3 separate regions of the Homo sapiens genome follow, and regions 1 and 2 are each linked to region 3. The links come from fine-mapping of genetic effects on gene expression. A gene starts in region 3. Each other region holds a variant in brackets. All regions are shown on one strand. Distances are between the middles of the regions.

The links. PIP is the estimated chance that this variant, and not a neighbour inherited with it, causes the effect. A credible set is the group of variants that fine-mapping cannot tell apart.
Region 1: its variant is the best candidate, but not a certain one, in a credible set for the expression of CLEC4A in lung (TOPMed, PIP 0.52).
Region 2: its variant is the best candidate, but not a certain one, in a credible set for the expression of CLEC4A in lung (TOPMed, PIP 0.68).

The regions. Positions count from the first base shown.
Region 1 is chr12:8,099,079-8,107,633 of GRCh38, forward strand. It overlaps a transcript of CLEC4A not described here. Among named protein-coding and RNA genes, the nearest start is that of CLEC4A, 20 kb to the right of the region's middle. The variant C/T (reference allele first, on the strand shown) is at 4,412.
Region 2 is chr12:8,146,439-8,155,007 of GRCh38, forward strand. No RefSeq gene overlaps it. Among named protein-coding and RNA genes, the nearest start is that of ZNF705A, 6.3 kb to the right of the region's middle. The variant A/G (reference allele first, on the strand shown) is at 3,496.
Region 3 is chr12:8,119,021-8,127,589 of GRCh38, forward strand. CLEC4A (C-type lectin domain family 4 member A) reads left to right here and starts at 4,597. Exons shown (of 6, transcript NM_016184.4): 1 at 4,597-4,940; 2 at 6,541-6,657. The coding sequence starts at 4,859. RefSeq lists an enhancer at 4,467-4,516.

The sequences.
Region 1 (8,555 bases), 20 kb before region 3:
TAAACCTCATGGTAACCACAAAGCAAAAACTATAGTAGATACACAAAAGATAAAGAGAACAATCAAAGGACTATAGAAAATCATCAAATAACAAAGGAATAGAGCAAGAGAGGAAGAAAGGAACAAAGGGCCCACAAAACAATCAAAAAACAATTTGAAAAATGGCAGCAGTAAGTCCTTACCTATTAATGATTATTTTGAATGCAAAATGGATTACATTCTCCAATCAAAAGACAGAGTGGCTAAATGAATTAAAAAAACAAGACTCAACTGTATCCTGCCTACAAGAGCATCACTTCACCTTTAAGGACACATAGAGACTGAAAGTTAGGCATGGAGACAGATATTTAATGCAAATGGAAACCAAAAGAGGGCAGGGGTAGCTATATTACTATATAGTCCCTCCTTATCTGAGGTTTTGTTTTCTGTGCTTTCAGTTACCTGCAGTCAACTGTGCTTTGAAAATACTAACTGGAAAATTACAAAAATTATTCATAAGTTTAAAAGTGGCACACTGGGGGCCGGGCGCGGTGGCTCACCCCTGTAATCCCAGCACTTTGGGAGTCCGAGGCGGGTGGATCATGAGGTCAGGAGATCGAGACCATCCTGGCTAACATGGTGAAACCCCGTCTCTACTAAAAAATAGAAAAAATTAGCCGGGCGTGGTGGCGGGCACCTGTAGTCCCAGCTATTCGGAAGGCTGAGGCAGAATGGCGTGAAGCTGGGAGGCGGAGCTTGCAGTGAGCCGAGATCGCGCCACTGCACTCCAGCCTGGGCGACAGAGCGAGACTCCGTCTCAAAAAAAAAAAAAAAAAAAATAGTGGCACACAGTTGAGTAGTGTGATGAAATCTCACACCATATTCCTTTGCCCTGCCCTGGATGTGAATCATCCTTTTGTCCAATGTGTCCATTCTATATACATTACCTACCTATTTGACACTTGATAGTCCTCTCAGTTATCAGATTGTTGTGGTATTGCAATGCTTGTACAAATTCAGTTAACCCTTATTTTACTTAATAGTGGCCCCAAAGCACAAGAGTGGTGACTCTGGCATATTGTTATATTTATTCTATTTTATTATTACTTATTGTTAATCTCTTGCTGTGCCTAATTTATAAATTTAACTTTATCATAGGTGTATATATAGGAGAAAACATAATGTATATAGGGTTCAGTACCATCTGTGGTTTCAGGCATCCAAGGGGGATCTTGGAATGTATTCCCTCAGGATAAGGGGGGAATACTGTATGTATTTCAGACAAAATAGACTTTAAGTCAAAAGCTATAACAAGAGCAAGAGACACGGTCATTACATAAACGTTGAAGAGGTAAATTCTTTTTTTTTTTTCTTTGAGACAGAATCTCCCTCTTGCCCAGGCTGGAGTGCAGTGGTATGATCTCAGCTCACTGCAACCTCTGCCTCCTGGGTTCAAGTGATTCTCCTGCCTCAGCCTCCTGAAGCTGGGACTACAGGCATGTACCACCACGCCCGGCTGATTTTTGTATTTTTAGTAGAGATGGGTTTTCACCGTGTTGGCCAGGCTGGTCTTGAATTACAGACCTCAAGTGATCCACCCACCTCAGCCTCCCAAAGTGCTGGGATTACAGGTGTGAGCCATTGTGCCTGGCCCAAAGAGGTAAATTCATCAAGATGATTGGAGCATCAAAATATATAAAGCAAATAACAGATTTTTTTTAAAAGTGAAAGCAAGTTTATTAAGAAAGTAAAGGAACAAAAGAATGGCAGAACAGCCCTCTTAACAGACTTGAAGAGGGAAATAGACAGCAATAGAATACCCCACTTTCAACAATGGATAGATCAGACAGAAAATCAAAGAGGAAACATTGAACTTGAGCTGCTCTTCAGACAATATGGGCCTAAGAGACATATACACAACATTTATTCAACAGCAGCAGAATACATATGCTTCTCAAGTGCACGTGGAATGTTCTCCAGTATAAATATGTTTGGTCACAAAACAAGTCTTAACAAATTTAAGATTGAAATCATATTGAGTATCTTTTGACTATAATAGTCTGAAATTAGAAATCAATAACAGGATGAAAACCAGAACATTCACAAACATGTGGAAATTAAAAAGTTTCCTGAACAATCGATGGGTCAAAGAATCAAAAAAGAAAAAAATATCTTGAGACAAATTAAAGTGGAAACACAGCATATCAAAATTTATGGGATGCAGCAAAAGTAGTTCTAAAAGGGAAGTTTATACCTCCATTAAGAAAAAAGAAAGATCTCAAACAAGCTAATGTTACACCTACAGGAACTAGCCAAAGCCTAAAGTTAGCAGAAAGAAAGAAGTAACAGGCCAGGCACAGTGGCTCACGCCTGTAATCCCAGCACTTTGGGAAGCCGAGGCAGGTGGATCACGAGGTCAGGAGTTCGAGACGAGCCTGGCCAACATAGTGAAACCCTGTCTTTCCTAAAAATACAAAAATTAGCTGGGTGTGGTGGCACGCGCCTGTAGTCCCAGCTACTCGGGAGGCTGAGGCGGGAGAATTGCTTGAATCCAGGAGGCGGAGGTTGCACTGAGCCGAGACTGTGCCATTGCACTCCAGCCTGGGTGACAGAGTGAGACTCCATCTCAAAAAAAAAAAAAAAAAAAAGAGCAGAAATAAATGAAATTTATATGCCTTTTCTCCTACATTAAAAAGAAAGAACTAATACCAATCCTTCTCAAACTCTTCCAGAAAATTGAAGAGGAGGGAATAATTTCAAATTCATTTTACAGGGTCAGCATTACCCTGATACCAAAGCCAGATAAGGACACTACAAGAAAATTACATCCCAGTATCCCTGATAAACACAGATGCAAAATCCTCAACAAAATACTAGCCAACTGAATTTGGCTAGTATATTTAATAGAGCCTGTTAAAAGATTATACACCATGATCAAGTGGGACTTATCCCTTGGATGCAAGGATGGTTCAACACACACAAATCAAATGTGATAAACTGTCTTAACAGAATGAAGGACAAAGGCCATATCATCTCAATAGATGCAGAAAAAGCATTTAACTAAATTCAACATTCTTTTGTGATAAATACCCTACAATTTAGATATAGAAAGAACTTACTTCAACACAATAAAGGCCATATATCACAAGCCCAGAACTAACATTATTGTCCGTGGTGAAAAACTGAAAGCTTTTCCTCTAATTTAGGAAAAAGACAAGGATGCCCACTCACTACTTCTATTCAACATAGTGCTGGAAGACTTAGCCAGAGCAATCAGGCAAGAAAAAGAAATAAGAGGCATTCAAATCAGAAAGGAAGAAATAAAATTGTCTTTGTTTGCAGAAGACACTAAATGAAATAAGCCAGACGGATAAATAATGCATGATCTCACTTACAAGTGGAATCTAGAAAAAGTTAAACTCACAGAAACCCAGTAGAATCATGGTTACCCAGGCTAGGAGGTCAGGGAAGAAGGAAGATAATGGTCAAAGGGTACAAACCTTCAGCTATAAGATGAATAAGCACCGAGACCTGATGTACAGGATGGTAACTATAGTTAATAATAATGCATACCTGAAATTTGCTAAGAGAGTAGATCTCAAGTGTTCTCACCACACACACAAGTAACTACGTGAGGTAATGGATACGTTTATTAGCCTAATTGTAATCATTTCACAATGTATACATATATTAAAATATCACATTGTATATTCTAAATATATATAATTTTTATTTGTCAACCATACCTCAATAAAGCTGGAAAAAAGATATATATATGTATATGTAAAAAGTAACACATACTGCTTTCTTCAGAGATTCTGATATACCTCCCGCTTTTGCCTTCCTGTAGGAGGACTTAAGAGACTTCCTGAACTGCGTCTTTTCTTATCATTACTGAGATTTTGAGGCACTGCTATTGACAGAGGTATATCTTAGACCTTAAGTTTTTGTTTGGGAAAAAAAATGTGGACAATCAATTTTCTAGCTCAACTCCCCTTAATTATATTTGATACTACTTGTCTTGTTATAATGTGAGCCTGTATTACTCCTCACTTCCTCCATTCTGATAACCTCCTAGGCAGTCTGCTTGCCAATGGCTTTTTTAGTTCTAATTCAGCTTACATGTTAACCCCAAAGTAATGTTTGTGAAACAAAGCTCTGCTCATGTTTTTTACTCTCCTATTAATTGCCTTTAATAATTCTTCTTTGCTTATAAAGTCCAAAATATAATTTCATCTTCAACTCAGTTTTCCCATTGACTCACAATGTGCTTTAACAAACTTAAGAACTACTAGTTGTTTCTTTGTTTCTTTCTGTTGTTTTTTTTTTTTTTTTTTTTTTTTTTTTTAGACGGAGTCTCACTCTGTCGCCCAGGCTGGAGGGCAGTGGCATGATCTCGGCTCACTGCAAGCTTTGCCTCCCGGCTTCACAC[C/T]GGCTTCTGCCTCAGCCTCCCGAGTAGCTGGGACTACAGGGGCACGCCACCACGCCTGGCTAATTTTTTGTATTTTTAGTAGAGACAGGGTTTCACCATGTTAGCCAGGATGGTCTTGATCTCCTGACCTCATGATCCCTCTGCCTTGGCGTCCCCAGTACTGGGATTACAGGCGTGAGCCACTGCACCCAGCCCCACTAGTTGTTTTTCATATGCCACAAGTATTGAGTGCTTGCTAAATTAAAATTTTTTCTGCCTAGAATACCTTCCCTTTTATACCTGCCTGTTGAGGTCCTTCCCATTGTGTAATGCTCGCCCAAATACTACTTCATGAAATGTTTACCTATCCTTCCAATCTGAAAGGTGATCTGTTTATTTGAGGGGGCAAGGGGTGGGGAGTGTTGCTGTTGAAATTCTCTTCCTCACTTGTTTTAAGCTCTTTGAATATAAAGACCATGTATGTCTTCATTTTTATGTACTTGCAGTACTTCCCATACACCTTTCTAGATAGTACATGCTCATGAAGTACTTGTGGAATTAACAGTGATTTCAGTGAGGAGGGACTAGAAGTTGGTAAGTTGAGTGTTTTCTGTATTTTACTCATTTTCATTTGGGTTGCTCCTGGCTACATGACTTAAGTATTCCTTATATGCTTTGCCATAGTGGCAGAAAATCTCATTTTTTTTTTTTTTTAGGTCAGTACATTTTAGAAAGGCCAGTCCATTACCTTAAATGTTTTCTAGATGAGATACACCAGTTGTGACAAATACTTGGTCTTACCTTGAATTGTAAGCCACCTCAGAATAAATTAAATTCCATTTTCCTTTTTTCATTCCAGTGCATTTTCCCCATTTTTCCTCTGTATTTAGGATGGCAAACAAGTACTTTATGCCTTGCAAATAAATTGGTTTCTGTGGTCATAATTACAAATCAAGCCATTTGGGTGCTTCTGTGCATACGAAAGCCTACGGCTGGCTTCTCCATGAATCCTAATACAGGACAGTTGATTCTCTTCAAGAAACAATCAAACCATCCCTGCCTTCTCCACCATATCTTTGATGTTTCCCTGCACCTTTTCTTTCTTTTTTTAAAAAACTTCTATTTTAGATTCAGAGGTATATATGCAGGTTTATTATATAGGTAAATTGCATGTCATGGGGGTTGGATATACAGATTATTTTGTCGCCTGGGTAATAAGCATAGTACTTGATAGGTAGTTTTTCAATCCTCTCCCTTCTCCCCCTCCCCACTCAGGGACCCAATGTCTGTTGTTCCCTTCTTTGTGTCCATATGTATGCAATGTTTAGATCTCATTCACACGTGAGAACATGTGGTATTTGGTTTCCTATTCCTGCATTAGTTCACTTAGGTTTATGGCCTCCAGCTCTATCTATGTTGCTGCCAAGGACATGTTCTTTTTCTTTTTTTATGGCTGCATAGTATTCCATAGTGTATATATACCACATTTTCTTTATCCAGTCTACCATTGATGGGCATTTAGGTTGATTCCACGACTTTGCTATTGTGAATAGTGCTTCAGTGAACATACGTATGCGGCATACATGTGTCTTTATGGTAGAATGATTTATATTCCTTTGGGTATATACCCAATAATGGGATTACTGGGTTGAATGGTAGTTCTAAGTTCTTTGAGAAATCACCACGCTACTTTCTACAATGGCTGAACTAATTTATGTTCCCACCAGCAGTGTATAAGTGTTCCCTTTTTCCTGCAGCCTCATCAACAGCTGTTATTTTGACTTTTTCATAATAGCCATTCTGACTGGTGTGAGATGGTATCTTATTGTGGTTTTGATTTGTGTTTCTCTAATGATTAGTGATGTTGAGCAATTTTTCTTTTCTTTTTTTTTTTTTTTAAGATGGAGTTTCGCTCTTGTCACCCAGGCTGGAGTGCAATGGCACGATCTCGGCTCACTGCAACCTCCACCTCCCAGGTTCAAGCAATTCTCCTGCCTCAGCCTCCCAAGTAGCTGGGACTACAGGTGTGTGCCACCACGGCTGGCTAAGTTTTTTGTATTTTTAGTAGAGACGGGGTTTCACCATCTTGGCCAGGCTGGTCTCAAACTCCCGACCTCATGATCCACCCGCCTCAGCCTCCCAAAGTACTGGGATTACAGGCATGAGCCACCGTGCCCGGCTGATGTTGAGCAATTTTTCATATGCTTGTTGGCCATGTGTCTTCTTTTGAAAAGTGCCTGTTCTTGTCCTTTGCCCACTTTTTAAAGGGTTGTTTGTTTTTTGCTTGTTAATTTGCTGTTTATAGATTCTGGATATCAGATCTTCGTCAGATGCATAGTTTACAAATATATTCTCCCATTCTGTTGGTTGTCTGTTTACTCTGTGAATAGTTTATTTTGCTGTCCAGAAGCTCTTTAGTTTAATTTGGTTTCATTTGTCAGTTTTTGTTTTTGTCATAATTGGTTTTGGCATATTCTTTATGAAATCTTTGCCCATTCCTATGTCCAGAATGATATTTCCTAGGTTATCTTTCAGGGTTTTTATAGTTTTATGTTTTATATTTAAGTCTTTAATCCCTCTTGAGTTGATTTTTGTATGCGGTATAAGGAAGGGGTCCAGTTTCAATCTTCTGCATATCGCTAGCTAGTTATCCCAGCACCATTTATTGAATAGGGAGTCCTTTCCTCATTGCTTGTTTTTGTCAACTTTGTCAAAGATAAGATGGTTGTAGGTGTGCAGCTTTATTTCTGGACTCTCTATTCTGTTACATTGGTCTATGTGTCTGTTTTTGTACCAGTACCATGCTGTTTTGGTTATTGTAGCCTTGTAGTATAGTTTGAAGTCAGGCGACACAATGCCTCCAGCTTTGTTCTTTTTGCTCAGGATTGCCCTGGCTATTTGAGCTCTTTTTTGGTTCCATATGAATTTTAGAATAGTTTTAAAAAAATTCTGTGAAGAATGTCATTGGTAGTTTGATAGGAATAGCATCAAATCTATAAATTGCTTTGGGCAGTATGGCCATTTTAACAATATTGATTCTTCTTATCCATGAGCATGGAATATTTTTCCATTTGCTTGTGTCATCTCTGATTTCTTTGAGCAGTGTTTTGTAATACTTGCTGTAGAGATCTTTTACCTCCCTGGTTAGCTGTATTCCGAGGTATTTTATTTTATGATTATTTTTTGTGGCATTTTGAATGGAATTACATTTTTGATTTGCCTCTCAGCTTGGACGTTGGATTTTTGTACACTGATTTTCTATCTTGAAACTTTACTGAAGTTGTTTATCAGATCTAGAAGCTTTTGGGCAGAGACTGTGGGTTTTCTAGGTATAGAATCATCTCATCTGCAAACAGATGATTTGATTTCCTCTGTTACTATTTGGATACCTTTTATTTCTTTCTCTCGCCTGATTGTCCTGCCTAGAACTTCCAGTACTATGTTGCATAGGAATGGTGAGAGTAGGTATCCGTGTCTTGTTCCAGTTCTCAAGGAGAATGCTTCCAGCTTTTGCCCATTCAGTATGATGTTGGCTGTGGGTCTGTCATAGATGGTTCTTATTATTTTGTGGTATATTCCTTCAATGCCTAGTGTGTTGAGGGTTTTTAACATGAAGAGATGTTGAATTTTATCAAAAGCCTTTTTTTGCATCTATTTAGATGATTGTGTGGCTTTTGTTTTTAGTTTTCTTTATGTGGTGAATTACATTCATGGATTTGTGTATGTTGAACCAACCTTGCATCCCAGAGATAAAGCCTGCTTGATAATGGTGGATTAACTTTTTGATGTGCTACTGGATTTGGTTTGCTTGTATTTTGTTGATGATTTTTGCATCTATGCTCATCAAGGATATTGACCTGGTTTCCTTTTTTATTCTGTCTCTGCCAGGTTTTGGAATCAGGATGATACTGGCTTCAGAGAATCAGTTAGCGATGAGTCCTTCCTCCTCAAATTTTTGGAACAGTTTCAGTAGGAATAGTTCAGCAGGAACCTCTTCTTTATACATCCAGTAGAATTTGGCTGTGAATCCACCTGGTCCTGGGCCTTTTCTGGTTGGTAGGCTTTTTATTACTGATTCAGTTTCAGAACTTGTTATTGATCTGTTCAGGGATTCAATTTCTTCCTGGGTCAATCTTGGGAGGTTGCATGTTTCCAAGAATTTGTC
Region 2 (8,569 bases), 27 kb after region 3:
TCCAACTCACCAGGCGGGGCCTCCTTGTGGGAATTTCAGCATCCCCAGCCAGGGGTTTATGGACAGAACACTGATATCCCTGAGAGGAACTCCTAGGAGGAGGGGCGGTTGTGGTATCATGGATCAACAGTCTTAGTCTTTTCTGCCTCCTGGCTCTGGAGAATCAGGACAGTCTGGACGAGGAGGATTCCTCCCAGTTTAGCACACACGCTCCACCAAGAGGCAGCCAGACTGCTTATTTAAGTGGGTCCCTGATCCTGCTCCTCCTGACTAGGTGAAATGTCCCAACAGGAGTCTCCAGACACCTCCTACAGGAGCATTCTGGCTGGCATGGGGTCAGTGTTCCTCTGGGACAGAGCTCCCAGAGGAAGGAGCAGACTGCCATCTTTGCTGTTCTGCAGCCTCTACTGGTGACATCTCCAGGGGTGGGAGGGAACCAGGTGGATAGGGTCTGGAGTGGACCCCCAGGAAATCATAGCAGCCGTGGGAAAGAGGGGCATGACTGCTAAAAGAAAAACAAACAGAAAGCAACAACAACAACATTAACAAAAAAGACCCCACAAAACCCTCATCCAAAGATCAGCAGCCTCAAAGATCAAAGGTAGATATACCTATGAAAATGAGAAAGAATCAATGCAAAAGTGCTAAAAACTCAAAAAACCAGAGTGTCTAAATGATCGCAACATGTCTCCAGCAAGGGCTCAGAACTGAGCTGAGGCTGAGATGAATGAATTGACAGAAACGGGCTTCAGAAGATGGGTAATAATGAACTTGACTGAGCTAAAGGAGTATGTTCTAATTCGTTGCAAAGAAGCTAATAATGATAAAACATTACAGGAGCTGTTAACCAAAATAACCAGTTTAGAGAGGAACACAAATGACTCAATGGAGCTGAAAAACACAACATGAGAACTTCACAATGCAAACACAAGTATCAATAGCTGTATAGAACAAGTGGATGAAAGGATATCAGAACTTGAAGACAATTCTGTGGAAATAAGGCAGGTAGACAAGGTTAGAGAAAAAAGGATGAAAAGAAACAAACAAAACCTCCGACAACTATGGGATTATGTTAAAAGACTGAACCTACGACTGATAGGGATACCCGAAAGACGCAGGGAGAATGAAACAAAGTTGGAAAACACACTTCAGGATATCATCCAGGAGAACTTCCCTTACCTAACAAGACAGGCCAACATGCAAATTCAGGAAATACAGAGGAACCCAGTAAGATACTCCACAAGAAGATCAACCCAAAGACACATAATCATCAGATTCTCCAAGGTAGAAATGAAGGAAAATATGTTAAGGGTAGCCAGAGAGAAAGGCCAAGTCACCTATAAAGGGAAGCCCATCAGACTAACAGCAGACCTCTCAATAGAAATCCTAGAAGCCAGGAGAGATTGGGGGCCAATATTCAACATTATTAAAGAAAACAATTTTGAACTGAGAATTTCATATTCAGCAAAACCAAGCTTTATAAATGAAGGAGAAATAAAATCCTTTTCAGACAAGTAAATGCTGAGGAAATTCATCACCACCAGGCCTGCCTTGCGAGAGATCCTGAAGGAAGCACTAAACATGGAAAGGAAAAAGCATTACCAGCCACTACAAAAACACATTGAAGTACACAGACCAATGATCCTATGAAGCAACTACATAAACAAGTCTGCAAAATAACCAGCTAACATCATGATGATAGGATGAAATTCACACATAACAATATTAACTTTAAATGTAAATGGGCCAAATGACCCAATTAAAAGACACAGAATGGCAAGCTAGATAAAGAGTGAAGATCCATTGGTGTGCTGTATTCAACAGAACCATCTAATATGCAAAGACACACATAGACTCAAAATAAAAGGATGGAGAAAAATTTACCAAGCAAATGGGAAACAGAAAAAAGCAGGGATTCTAATCTTAGTTTCTGACAAAACAGACTTTAAACCAACAAAAGTCAAAAGAGACAAAGAAGGGCATTACATAATAGTAAAGGGGTCAATTCAACAAGAAGAGTTAACTATCCTAAACATATATGCACCCAATACAGAGCATCCAGATTAATAAAACAAGTTCTTAGATACCTACAAAGAGACTTAGACTCCCACACAATAGTAGTGGGAGACTTTAACCCTCCACTGTCAATATTAGACAGAACAAGGCAGAAATTTAACAAAGATATTCAGGATTTGAACTCAGCTCTGGATCAGGTGGACCTGATAGATGTCTACAGAACTCTCCATCCCAAAACAACAGAATATACATTCTTCTCAGCGCCACATGGCACTTACTGTAAAATTGATCACATAATTGGAAGTAAATCACCCCTCAGAAAATGCAAAAGAACTGAAATAGTAACAGTCTCTCAGACCACAGCACAAATTAGAACTAAAGATTAAGAAACTCACTCAAAACCACACAACTACATGGAAATTGAACAACCTGCTCCTGAATGACTCTTGGGTAAATAATGACATTAAGGCAGAAATCAAAAAGTTCTTCGAACTTTTTGTGTCCAAGTGTTCTCATTATTCAATTCCCACCTATGAGTGAGAACATGTGGTGTTTGGTTTTCCGTCCTTGTGATAGTTTGCTCAGAAGGATGGTTTCCAGCTGCATCCATGTCCATGCAAAGGACATGAACTCATCCTTTTTTTATGGCTGCATAGTATTCCATGGTGTATATGTGCCACATTTTCTTAATCCAGTCTATCACTGATGGACATTTGGGTTGGTTCCAAGTCTTTGCTATTGTGAATAGTGCCACAATAAACATACGTGTGCATGTGTCTTTATAGTAGCATGATTTATAATGCTTTGGGTATATACCCAGTAATGGGATGGCTGGGTCAAATGGTATTTCTAGTTCTGGATCCTTGAGGAATTGCCACACTGTCTTCTACAATGTTTGTACTAGTTTACTCTCCCACCAACAGTGTAAAAGTGTTCCTATTTCTCCATATCCTCTCCAGCACCTGTTGTTTCCTGACTTTTTAATAATTGCCATTCTAATTGGTGTGAGATGGTATCTCACTGTGGCTTTGATTCGCATTTCTCTGATGACCAGTGATGATGAGCTTTTTGTCATATGTTTGTTGGATGCATAAATGTCTCCTTTTGAGAAGTGTCTGTTCATATCCTTTGCCCACTTATTGATGGGGTTGTTTGTTTTTTTCTTGTAAGTTTGTTTAAGTTCTTTGTAGATTCTGGATATTAGTCCTTTGTCAGATGGATAGATTGCAAAAATTTTCTCCCATTCTGTAGGTTGCCTGTTCACTCTGATGGTGGTTTCTTTTGCTGTGCAGAAGCTCTTTAGCTTAATGAGATCCCATTTGTCAATTTTGTCTTTTGTTGCCATTGCTTTTGGTGTTTTAGTCATGAAGTCCTTGCCCATGCCTATGTCCTGAATGGTATTGCCTAGGTTTTCCTCAGGGTTTTTATGGTTTTAGGTCTTACATTTAAGTCTTTAATCCATCTTGAGTTAATTTTTGT[A/G]TAAGATGTAAGGAAGGGGTCCAGTTTCAGTTTTCTGCATATGGCTAGCCAGTTTCCCAACACCATTTATTAAATAAGGAATCCTTTCCCCATTTCTTGTTTTTGTCCGGTTCATCAAAGATCAGATGGTTATAGATATGTGATGTTATTTCTGAGGCCTCTGTTCTGTTCCATTGGTCTATATATCTATTTTGGTGCCAGTATCATGCTGTTTCAGTTACTGTAGTCTTGTAGTATAGTTTGAAGTCAGGCAGCGTGATGCCTCCAGCTTTGTTCTTTTTGCTTAGGATTGTCTTGGCTATGTGGGCTCGTTTTTTGTTCCATATGAAATTTAAAGTAGTTTTTTTCCAATTCTGTGAAGAAAGTCAGTGGTAGCTTGATGGGGATAGCACTGAATCTATAAATTACCTTGGGCAATATGACCATTTTCACAATATTGATTCCTCCTATCCATGAGCTTGGAATGTTTTTACATTTGTTTGTGTCCTCTCTTATTTTCTTGAGCAGTGGTTTATAGTTCTCCTTGAAGAGGTCCTTCACATCCCTTGTAAGTTGTATTCCTAGGTATTTTATCCTCTTTGTAGCAATTGTGAATGGGAGTTCATTCATGATTTGGCTCTCTGTTTGTGTTATTGGTGTATAGGAATGCTTGTGATTTTTGCACATTGATTTTGTATCCTGAGACTCTGTTGAAGTTGCTTATCAGCTTAAGGAGATTTTGGGCTGTAACGGTGGTGTTTTCTAAATGTACAGTCATGTCATCTGCAAACAGAGACAATTTGACTTCCCTTTTCCTATCTGAATACCTTTTATTTCTTTCTCTTGCCTGACTACCCTGGCTAGAACTTCTAATACTGTGTTAAATAGGAGTGGTGAGAGAGGGCATCCTTGTGTTGTGCCGGTTTTCATAGGGAATGCTTCCAGCTTTTGCCCATTCAGTATGACATTGGCTGTGGGTTTTTCATAAATAGCTCTTATTATTTTGAGATACATTCCATCAATGCCTAGTTTATTGAGAGTTTTTAGAATGAAGTTGTGTTGAATTTTGTTGAAAGCCTTTTCTGCATATATTGAGATAATCATCTGGTTTTTGTCTTTGGTTCTGTTTATGTGATGGATCACGTTTATTGATTTGCATATGTTGAACCAGCCTTGCATCCTAGGGATGAAGCCAACTTGATTGTGTGGATAAGCTTTTTGATGTGCTGCTGGATTTGGTTTGCCAGTATTTTACTGAGGATTTTCACATCGATGTTCATCAGGGATATTGGCCTGAAATTTTCTTTTCTTATTGTGTTTCTGCCAGGTTTTGGCATCAGGATGATGCTAGCCTAGTAAAATGAGTTAGGGAGGATTCCCTCTTTTTCTGTTGTTTGGAATAGTTTCAGAAGGAATGGTAGTAGCTCCTCCTTGTACCTTTGGTAGAATTCGGCTGTGAATCCATCTGGTTGTGGACTTTTTTTGGTTGGTAGACTATTAATTACTGCCTCACTTTCAGAACTTGTTATTGGTCTATTCAGGAATTTGACTGCTTCCTGGTTTAGACTTGGGAATGTGTATGTGTCCAGGAGTCTATCCATTTCTTATAGATTTTCTAGTTTATTCATGTAGAGGTGTTTATAGTATTCTCTCATAGTAGTTTGTATTTCTGTGGGATCAGTGGTGATATCCCCTTTACCAATTTTTATTGTGTCTATTTGATTCCTCTCTTTTCTTCTTTATTAGTCTGGCTAGCAGTCTATTTTGTTGATCTTTTCAAAAAGCCAGCTCCTGGATTCAATTATTTTTTTGAAGGGTTTTTCGTGTCTCTGTCTCCTTCAGTTCTGCTCTGATCTTAGTTATTTTTTGTCTTCTGCTACCTTTTGAATTTGTTTGCTCTTGCTTCTCTAATTCTTTTAATTGTGATGTTAGGGTGTCGATTTTAGACCTATCCTGCTTTCTCTTGTGGGCATTTAGGGCTATAAATTTCCCTCTACACACTGCTTTAAATGTGTCCCAGAGATTCTGGTACGTTGTGTTTTTGTTCTCATTGGTTTCAAAGAACTTCTGTATTTCTGCCTTCATTTTGTTGTTTATCCAGTAGTCATTCAGGAGCAGGTTGTTCAGTTTCCATGTAATTATGTGGTTTTGAGTGAGTTTCTTAATCCTGAGTTCTAATTTGATTGCACTGTGGTCTGAGAGACTGTTCGTTATGATTTCCATCCTTTTGCATTTGCTGAGGAGTGTTTTACTTCCAATTATGTGGTCAATTTTAGAATAAGTGTGATGTGGTGCTGAGAAGAATGTATATTCTATTGATTTGAGGTGGAGAGTTCTGTAGACGTCTATTAGGTTTGCTTGGTCCAGAGCTGAGTTCAAGTCCTGTATATCCTTGTTAATTTTCTGTCTCATTGATCTGACTAATATTGACAGTGGGGTGTTGAAGTCTCTCAGTATTATTGTATGGGAGTCTAAATCTCTCTGTAGGTCTCTAACAACTTGCTTTATGAATCTGGGTGCTCCTGTATTGGGTGCATATATATTTAGGATAGTTAGCTCTTCTTGTTGCATTGATCCCTTTACCATTATGTAATGCCCTTTTTTGTCCTATAAATCTTTGTTGATTTAAAGTCTGTTTTATCAGACACTAGGATTTTAACCCCTGCTTTTTTTTTTGCTTTCCATTTGCTTGGTAAATATTCTTCCATCCCTTTATTTTGAACCTATGTTTGTCTTTGCACGTGAGATGGGTCTCCTGAATACAGCACACCAATAGGTCTTGACTTTTCATCCAATTTGCCAGTCTGTGTCTTTTAATTGGGACATTCAGCCCATTTACATTTAAAGTTAACATTGTCATGTGTAAATTTGATCCTGTCATTATGATGCTAGTTGGTTATTTTGCACATTATTTGATGCAGTTTCTTCATAGTGTTGATGGTCTTTACATTTTGGTATGTTTTTGCAGTGGCTGGTACCGGCTTTTCCTTTCCATATTCAGTGCTTTCTTAGTAGCTCTCGTAAGACAGGACTGGTAGTGACAAAATCCTTTATCATTTGCAAGTGTGGAAAGATTTTATTTCTCCTTTGCTTGTGAAACTTAGGTTGGCTGGATATGATATTCCACGTTGAAAATTCTTTTCTTTAGAAATGTTGAATATTGGCCCTCACTCTCTTCTGCTTTGTAGGTTTCTGCAGAGAGATCTGCTGTTATTCTGATGGGCTTCCCTTTGTGGGTAACCTGACCTTTCTCTCTGACTGCTCTTAACATTTTTTCTTTCATTTCAACCTTTATGAATCTGACAAATATCTCTCTTGGGGTTGCTCTTCTTGCAGAGTATCTTTGTGGTGTTCTCTGTATTTCCTGAATTTGAATGTTGGCCTGCCTTGTTAGGTTGGGGAAGTTCTCCTGGATAATATCCTGAAGTAGTTTTCCAACTTAGTTCCATTCTCCCCATCACTTTCAGGTATACCAATCAAACATAGGTTTGGTCTTTTCACATAATCCCATATTTCTTGGAGGCTTTTTTTATTCCTTTGCATTCTTTTTTCTCTAATCTTGTGTTCACACTTTATTTTATTAAGTTGACCTTCAATCTCTGATATCCTTTTTTTCCACTTGATAGATTTGGCTATTGATACTTGCGTATGCTTCACGAAGTTCTCGTGCTGTATTTTTCAGCTCCATTTAGTCATTTATATTCTGGCTTTGTGGAGCTGTGATGGGCTTCACCCAGTTCCAAATTCCTGGTGGCTTTGTTTACATTGTGAGGGGAAAACTGCGTACTCAAGCCTCAGTAATGGCAGACACCCTTTTCCCCCTCAGTGAAGCTCAAGCATCCCAGGTCAACTTCAGACTGCTGTGCTGGCAGGTTGAATTTCAAGCCAGTGGATCTTAGCTTGCTAGGCTCCATGGGGTTGGGACCCACTGATGAGACCAATTGGCTCTCTGGCTTCAGCCCCATTTCCAAGGGAGTGAATGGTTCTGTCTTGCTGGCATTCCAGGTGCCACTGGGGTATAAAAACAAAACAAAACAAAATAAAACAAAACCCAAAGACTTCTGCAGCTACCTTGGTGTCTGCCCAAATGGCTGCCCAGTTTTGCACTCGAAACCCAGGGTCCTGGTGGTGTAGGCACCTGAGGGAATCTCCTGGTCTGTGGGTTGTGAATACCATGGGAAAAGCATAGTATCTGGGCCTGATAGCACTGTTCTTCATGGCACAGTCCCTCATGGCTACACCCGGCTAGGGGAGGGACTTCCCCGATCCCTGTGCTTCCTGGGTGAGGCAACACCCCACCCTGCTTCTGCTCACCCTCCACAGGCTGCACCCACTGTCTAACTAGTCCCAATGAGATGAGCCAGGTGCCTCAGTTGGAAATGCAGAAATCACCCGCCTTCTCTGTTGGTCTCACTGGGAGCTGCAGACCAGAGCTGTTACTATTCAGCTCTCTCTTGTGTTTCTTCTTAAGACATTAACTTATTAACACAACTTCGAATGACTACTTATCATTAAGAAAAGTATATAGAAATAGCAATAGATTTTTGTGATATTGAATATTTGTTTATATTTTGAAGGCATATAAACAAATTATCTTTATGCCATTTAAATGCTTGTTTTTTGCATGATCAACCATGATAATCAAAAAGAGAAACTTCACATAAAACATCATGAGAATTATTTGAACATATTTGGAGAGTCAACATTCTTTAAATTTTTGAATGTTCTTTTGCTTGTATTTTTGTCAAGATAAAGAATGAGATTTGAGCTTCAAAGAAACCCACACAGGTGGTTCCTGTCTGCCTCACTTTGGAGTTGTACATGCAGTGATTCTAGAAGAATAACCACAGAGTGGAAATGAGAACTGTTTTTCTTTTTAGTTACAGGGAGGAGATTAAAAGTAAAACCAAGAATGGAAGATTAGGAATTGATGTTAAATCTAAGACTGATTTTTTTTTAAAGTAAACAAATGTACAAAGTGGAAGAATTGTAAAGTTAGATAATCTTAGGACTGAAATAGAGATTGAAACATGATAATAGGTTAGAAAATGATGAAATTAGGAAAATAAGTCACACTTAAGGGCAACTGAGAGGA
Region 3 (8,569 bases):
TGAGAAAATAAATTTCTCTTCTTTATAAATTACCCAGTCTCAGGTATTTTGTTGTTAACAACACTAATGGACTGAGAAACTGATATGAGCTATAACATGGATGAACCTCAAAAACACTAAGCTAATACCAGCTGAATTAGCTAGCCTTGCTGCAAAAATGGTCTTAGTCTCATCTTTGGTGAAAATAAGATAGATTTTTTATTTGTTTGCTTTTGTTTTCTGAGACAGAGCTTCGCTACTGTTGCCCAGGCTGGAGTGCAATGGTGCGATCTCAGTTCACTGCAACTTCTGCCTCCCAGGTTCAAGTGGTTCTCCTGCCTCAGCCTCCCTAGTGTCTGGGCTTATAGGCATGCACCACCACGCCTGGCTAATTTTGTATTTTTAGTAGTGATGGGGTTTCACCATGTTGGTCAGGCTGGTCTCGATCCCCTGACCTTAGGTGATCCACCCGCCTTGGCCTCCCAAAGTGCTGGGATTACAGGCATGAGCTACCATGCCTAGCCTGTGTCTTTTTATTATGAAAGAAATACATGCTTATAAAATATCAAACAGTAAAAAATCTTTAAAAATAAAAGTGCCCTATTTACTCCATCCTTACTTCTAAATACTGAGATTAATTTCACAGTGAACAGAATGGTCACTTGCCATCATATCAATATAAATAGTCTAACGAATATCTTGTTTTCATGAAATTAACAATACTGAGCTATTAAATTGACTTCTGATATCAACTACCTGGACTTAGGCCAAATTTCACAGGTTGAGGGCACGCCCTTCATAAGACTGCCATTACTTCAGATACCAGCCACAAGTTCAGGGGTTCCCAGGGGTGTCCTCACTCCTGATCAACTGACTACAAATTTGGGGTTTCCCATGATCCCTTCAGGTTTTATGATTTATTAGAATGACTCACTGAACTCAGGATAGTGCCATGCTTATGATTGCAGTTTTATTATAGCAAAAGGATACAAATCAGAACCAGCCAGAGGGAGAGATGCATGGGGTAAGGACTGAGAGGGTCCTAAATGGAAATTTCCATTGACCCCATTGATATATCACTTTCTTAGAACTTTAATGTGTGATAATACACAGAGTATTGCCAATCAGGGGAGCTTCAGTGCCCAGAGTTTTTACTGGGGTCCATTATGTAGGCATGATTGATTGAACCATTGGTCACAAGTTGAACTCAGTCTCTAGCTTCCCTTCCCCACCTGGGCTGATATAACATGGCTCAGGGCTTCAATGCGCCAATCACATGACTGGTCTTTCCGGCATGGCCAGCCCCACCCTGAATCACCTTCTTAGCATAAACTATCTTAGAGCCCATCATGAGAGACCTCATTAGCATGAGATATACGGGCCCACCATGAATAACAAAGACAATCCTATTATTTGGAAAATTCCAAGGATTTAAAGGCTACCTCCAGGAAGTGGGAACAAAATCCAGGCAAATTCTTTATTACCTAGGTTAACTGCAACATGATGCAATATTCAGAGAGTGAACGAACAAGTGAAGGCACACTGTCAGCCTCTCAGAGTTGTGGAACTTCCAGTCTTCCCTCATAATAGGTACCATACCACACATGACATGCAATCAATACTAGTAAAGCTTATCTTCCTTAAAACTTTAAATAAATGTAAATAGATGTTTTAGTGTTTTTTTCTCTGTGCCTTAGCAGATCCTCTTTTATACTGCCTAAGGTACTTGTGCCCCATTTTGGAGATCACTGCCCAAGAGATCTCTTGGATAAATAATTTAAAGGGATAAGGGGATAGATTCTATTATTGTTTCCAAATGTCTGTGTTCTCCTTTGTGAAAGGATTAAACTTTGATACCCTTGACATGTCTTTCTGTAGACAAAGTATATTTCCCTGTCTCACTTGCAGGTTTGTTCAGGTAACTTGCATTGGCCAACAGAATCAGAGCAAATACAACGTACACCTTATCTGAATAAAGGATGCTACTACATGGTTCAGCTTACAAGGAGCTATTCTGTGATCTCAGCTTCCAGAATGAGAAAACACTTGGAGAGGGGCCAAGCAGAGTTGCAGTCAACTCCAAGGTGGCCCTAAGCACAAGTGTAATGTAAGTGAGAAATACATGTTTGTTGTTGTAAGCCACTTGGATTTTGGGGTTGTTGGTGATACGGTGTAATCCAGTTATAATGTGACTTATTCCAGGGAGAGAGCTATAGTTTTAGGAATATGGTTTGCTTTCTAATTATGAGCTTAGATTGTAAAGACTCTGAGAATCAATGATTGTTATTTCAGGGAATATGTGTGCATGTATACCTGTCTACGTGCATGTGCTGGTTAGGCCCAATCATTAATTTGTGGAGAACTTAAAATTCCCTTATCCTTCCCTTATGCTTTGTCATTCCCCTTTCCCTTTTCTTACTAAATAATTTGATTCTAAATAAAGCAGTAGCAAGATAGGTGTCTATGGTGAGGTGGCTGGGAGAGCAGCAGTGGCCTGGCACAGGGGGAGAGCTTTAGCAGGGTGAGAAGGGTGACTATGCAGGGTATTGGCTTGACAGTGGTTCTGGAGCCCAAGCAGAGTGAGAAGAACATCCCTTAGGGGTGGGAAAGTGTCCTGGCATGGGGAACCAGAGCGAGGAGATGTCCACTCCTGGCAATGGCCCAGTGCAGGGTGTCAGAGGATAAGATTGAGGAGGGTGTCCATAGTAGGGGTAGCCTGATGTGAGAGGTCAGAGTCTGAGAGGTAAAGAAGGCATCTATGTGGTGGGATAGTCAGGTGCAGTGAGTTGGAGTGCAAGCAGGGTGAGGAGGGCATCCATGTATGAGGTTACCTTCTATAGGGAGTCAGAGTCGCAAATGGCTGAGCAGAGTACTCTAGGGCCAGCCTGGTATGTATGTCAGCATGTGGGAGAGGTGAGGAGGGCACCCATGCCTAGTGTTGGCCCAGTTGGGGTTGGGACTCAGCACTTAAGCAGGATGAGGAGAGAGAGCATCCTTGCAGAGGGTAGACCTGGTGTGGTTTCAGAGACCAAGCATGATAAGGAGGGTGTCCATGTGGTGGGGTAGCCCAGTGAGGGAACTCAGATCCTAAGTAGGGTAAGATGGACATTATTGCTGGGGGATGGAGGACCTGCATGGAGTGTCAGAGCCCAAGCAGGATGAAGAAAGCTTCTATGCAGAGGGAGGACTTGGTGTGGGTTTCAGAAACTTAGCAGGATAAGGAGGTGGTCCATGTGGTAGGATAGCCCGGTGAGGAAATCAGACCCCTCCAGGGTGAGGAGGGCTTCCACCCATAGGGTGACCTTGTGTGGAGCATTAGAACCTAAGGGGGTCTAAGTGGTGACTAGGGGACCAGCATCAGGAATCAGAGTGCAAGCAGAGTGAGGAGGGCTTTCCTGCAGAGGAATGGCCTAGCACAGGGAGTCAGAGCCTTGGCAGGGTGAGGGGGATGTTTGTTGGGGGATGTTCATGGGGGTGGGGAGTGGGCTGGCCCTTTGCCGGCACTCTCAGAGTGAGGAGGGAGGGCATCCGCGCAGGGGATGGTGGCTTGGACTGGGGAGTCAGAGCCCAACTAGGAAGAGAGGGACATCTTAGCAGGTGGGAGATTGACGACATCCAGGAGATTGATCAAATAAGGAATAAGTGAAAGACAATGAAAGCAGGTTTCTTAGTGTCACAGAAAGGAGTTAGGAATGTGGGAAGGGAGAAAACTAGAATGAAACTTGTGGTGTTAGATTGGAATTAGAGGAATTAGTGTGAACTCATGGTGTTCAATATATTTAGATATAGAAATAATATAGAAATATAGACGTGTGTGTTTGTGTGTGTGTGCATGCATGTATGCATGTGTGTTATGCAGGAGAAGGAATCAGCTGGGGGAGATTAAAAGGAGGATCATTTGCGGAGAGTTGAGGGCAGAGAATCCAGGTGTGAGCTGGGAGCATGTCTATGGAGAGATTCCACATGAAGGATTTAATATTTGGAGTGTTTTCTTCTAGGCCTTTGGAAAAAGTCATATTTAGTACTTTGTTTAAGTTTATCCCCTTCTATACTGTGATTCTATATAATTCTCCTAACTGTTAAAAAATAGTCATATATATTGGAGGTGATGTGGCGATTAAAAGGTTAGGGAAGCATGGAATAAAGGCTGGCCTTCCCTCTCCTCCAACATCCAGTAAAGGGAGCTGCTTTCTGGAGATTCTAGCAAGATGAATGCAGACTTTTGATAGAGTTAGTTACCAACAAGGAAACACAGAGAGCATGGAGGAACAGCTTCAGAAGACATGGGGTTTAAACTTTGCCATCCCCACCATGCTACAGGAAACTAATTCGTGAAGGTGGGGAGGCTGATATGTGAGTTTTGTGTCAATGATACTCTTAGAATGTGGTACTAACAAGTTGCCTGATCAGTCAAAATTGATGAGATGAATGCAACATAAGTCTATGTTCAGGATGTTTGGTCAAAAGTAATTACATTTGTGTGTGGAAGCACAGAAATTGTATTTTTTACTGGTGAAAAACGCAGTTCTCCAGAAAGACTCTAAGTGCTTGGTTCTTCTTTTATTTTTCTTCCTCTTTCCGCAACCCTTTGAGTTCCCACTTTTATTGCATTTGCTTGCATTTGTTTCAAGGCTGTGATTCTCACTATACTGGTCCTGAGGAAAGGGCTTCTGTGAACTGCGGTTTTTAGTTTTTATTGTGGTTCTTAGTTCTCATGAGACCCCTCTTGAGGATATGTGCCTATCTGGTGCCTCTGCTCTCCACTAGTTGAGTGAAAGGAAGGAGGTAATTTACCACCATGTTTGGTTCCTGTTTATAAGATGTTTTAAGAAAGATCTGAAACAGATTTTCTGAAGAAAGCAGAAGCTCTCTTCCCATTATGACTTCGGAAATCACTTATGCTGAAGTGAGGTTCAAAAATGAATTCAAGTCCTCAGGCATCAACACAGCCTCTTCTGCAGGTAAAGATCATTTTCTAGGGGTCAGAGTGAATGACGAGGTGAAGGATGAGGAGAGGGTTTATGAATAAGGCATAGGTGTTTTCAGTTGCTGGTTGTCTGATTGAGTATGTCTGGGAAACACAAGAGTCCCAGAAGATTGAGTGGCCTGCAGATACGCATTACGGGGTGTACATTTGTATTGTGGAGAAGAAAAGATTTTGTGCCACTCTCTTCAGCCTCCACTCTGCTTACTGAAACAGAGGTGAGAGAAATCCACTCCAGTTCTGAGCTAAGGCGAGTGCTCTGATGCCCCTGTGTTTTCTGAGGCTGAGTGGGGCTGGGGTTAAGAGATTGAGTACAGCTTCTGAAACCATCAATCCAGATGCAGGGGGTCCTGATGAATTTGTGAGATTTGTTTTTTGATCAGTTAGAGGGAAAGAGTTTGGGTGGACAGTGGTGAGGGTATATTTGTTGGTAATGGATGGAAATGTAACAAAAGGCCTTTGCAAATGAAAGACTAGAAAGTCTACAAAGAAAGTCTCTTAAATCTCCAGGAAACTTTTTCTGAAATCAGAGAACCTATTGCGTGTTGCATCTCTGAGACAGACTCTGTTACGTTTGGGAGTAGATGCAAGGTGATTTGGGTGTCATGTGTGATATCTCAAGTATAGAGCAAAAGAGAGAAAAGAATGTATATAGAGTACAAGAAACTATGGGGGAAGGGGTCAGGACTATAGTTACGCTTTCTAAAATACCTCTGTGAAGGTGTGGAGAGCACTTAGGGAAATTTTTTCTCCTTAAAAACTTTATATAATTTCTTTATTACACAAGTATTAATGTTCATTGTAGAAAAAATTAACCAGAGGTACACAGATATTTGAATTATAATTACTCTTATCATCTAGAGAAAATCATAATTTGCAATTTAGTGAATATCCTTCCACATACAAATACATATAATGTGCATATGTATTTTACTAAAAATGTAATCATATTATATAATACTGAATTTTTTTCCCCCATCATTTGACAAAATATCATAACTCGAAGAAAGTGATTCCTAACCATGAGATGGTAACTAAAAAGACTGACTTTATTCTAAACATGTGATGAGGAATGATTATAAAGATTTATTTGCTATAGCATTATTTAAAGTTGGAAACCATTATTTAAATATATGATGAAATACTATGCAACCATAATAAGGAGTGTTAAAGAAGAAAATATAATGGTATGAAAAATGTTCATGATATAGTGTAAAGGAAAATAATAGGTCAGAAATCAGTATTTATGGTATGTCAATCGTGGGAAAATTTGCATATGTGTATATATACATTCAAAAAATTGCTAGAAAGATATATACCAAAATATTATGGTATATTATAAGTTATATGGCATAACAGTTATCCTCAATTGTAGGAATTCGTACTTTTATGTATTTTTTAAAGTTTCTACAGTGAATATTATTATATCCTTTCTATTCCTATTCTCATGTGATTTCAAATGTCATACCGTTAGTAACTGTGTGTCATCCAAGAAAAGAGAGAGAAAGAGGAGGAGGAAGAAGAGGAAGTAAAGACCAAACTTATTACTGATAAAACTAATTTGGCTTCTTCTTCAGCTTCCAAGGAGAGGACTGCCCCTCACAAAAGTAATACCGGATTCCCCAAGCTGCTTTGTGCCTCACTGTTGATATTTTTCCTGCTATTGGCAATCTCATTCTTTATTGCTTTTGTCAGTAAGTATGCCAACTGAACCAATAAGCAATATCTGCTGTCCATGAACAGAGGGTATCCTTTAAAAACTGACTTTTGAAAATGAGCTTATCCAGAAATCTGAAATGAAATTTTCTCTGGGGAGACATAATTCATGGGAATCCACTGTGAATTTTGCTCTTTATTTGGATTTAGTTACTGTCCTGTAAAAATAATGGAATCCCTTCTCATTTAGAGAAACTGAAGCATAAATGTGGGTGTATGTATTTGTGTTGTAGAGTGAAATCTATGGGGCATCATCTCTATACTAGACACTATGTAAGTGAGGACAAATCTATGTTTCCTTGGTAGCATTTATCAGGCCAGTCTGATTTGAATGCACAGACATTTATGTTTTGGGATGAGCAGGTAGACAACAAGGAGATGGGAAGAAATATTTCAGGAAGAGTTCTCCACTGGCTTTTACTCTGATTATTCCTGCCCTGCTCAAGACTGTGTGGGATCTAAAAGTCAATTTTGCAAATTAGGTGGATTGCTGCGTATCTTTGGCTTTCAGCATTTGTTGAGTTTTATTCCCCCTGGTTCTGTCACCCAGGCTGGAGTGCATTGGTGCAATCTTGGCTCACTGCAACCTCCACCTCCCAGGTTCAAGCGATTCTCCCACCCCAGCCTCCCAAGTAGCTGGGATTACAGGTGTGCATCACTATGCTCAGCTAATTTTTTTTTTTTTTTTTTTTGTATTTTTAGTAGAGACAGGGTTTTCTCATGTTTCCTGGCCTTGTCCTGAACTCCTGGGCTCAAGCAGTCTGCCTACCTCAGCCTCCTAACGTGCTGGGATTACAGGCATGAGTCACTACGCCTGGCTCAAAATTTTTAAAAGGCATAAAAAGCAGTATACATTTAGGTAGATTCTTTATTAATTTCTTTGGTCATTTCATAAGTATTGTCCATCTACTGTATGTCAGGCACTGTGCCAGACAGAGAGTCAAGACAGAGCCACAGCCCCTGGTCTCAAGAAATTTAGAGAATGATAAAATGAACCAGTGGTTATAACATTGTATGGTAAGTGTTGTACAGTTAAGAAGTATAATAAGTGCAAGAGGCTGAGGTAGGCTTTCCGGAGGAGGTGACATCTAGAGCTGTGTGTACCAAGAATGACCTAGAGATATGAGAGAGCATGGAATTTGGGGAAACGTAAGTATGCATGACTGGAACATATGGTGCTAAGTAAAGAACTAAGAAATGAAGTTGTAGGTGGCAGAAAGAAACAGGACTCAGATCATGAAGACTGCTGTATATCATGATAAAGAGTTTGGATTTTTTCCCTCCTAAAGGTTATTTTATCAATTATCTTTTGCTGGTTAATAAGCCAATCTAAAACTTAGTGGATTAAAACAGCAACTATTTATTTAGCTCATAAATCTGTGTCTTGGCAATTGAGACTGGTGTCAGTTGGGAGATTTCCCCAGTCCTGGCTGAACTCACTCATGTATATGTGGTTGGGTACTGGCCACAGGCAACTTAGCTTCTGAGGAACAGGATGTTAGATGGAATGGCAGGAGAGATTTGGCCACGTTTCTCTTATCATTCATCAGGGTAGCCTGGGTTTGTTCACATGGCAACTGGCAGGCTTTTAAGACTGAGAGCGGAAGTAAGCAAGGCCTTTTGAAATCTCACCTTGGAACTAGCGCAGAGTTGCTCCTGCACATTCTATTGGCCAAAAGAAGTCTTACAGGCAGCCCAGATCCAGGCGGTGGAGAAATAGACCACATTTCTTGATTGAAGAAGCTGCAAAATCACATTGCAAAGCAGTGTAGATACAGGGTATGTTGAAAGTTGTGGCCATTTTTGCAATGTCACAGTCATAGAGAAAATTGAAGAATTTTAAGCAGGGAATTGATATAATTGGATTGGACTTATAGAAACATGATTTTT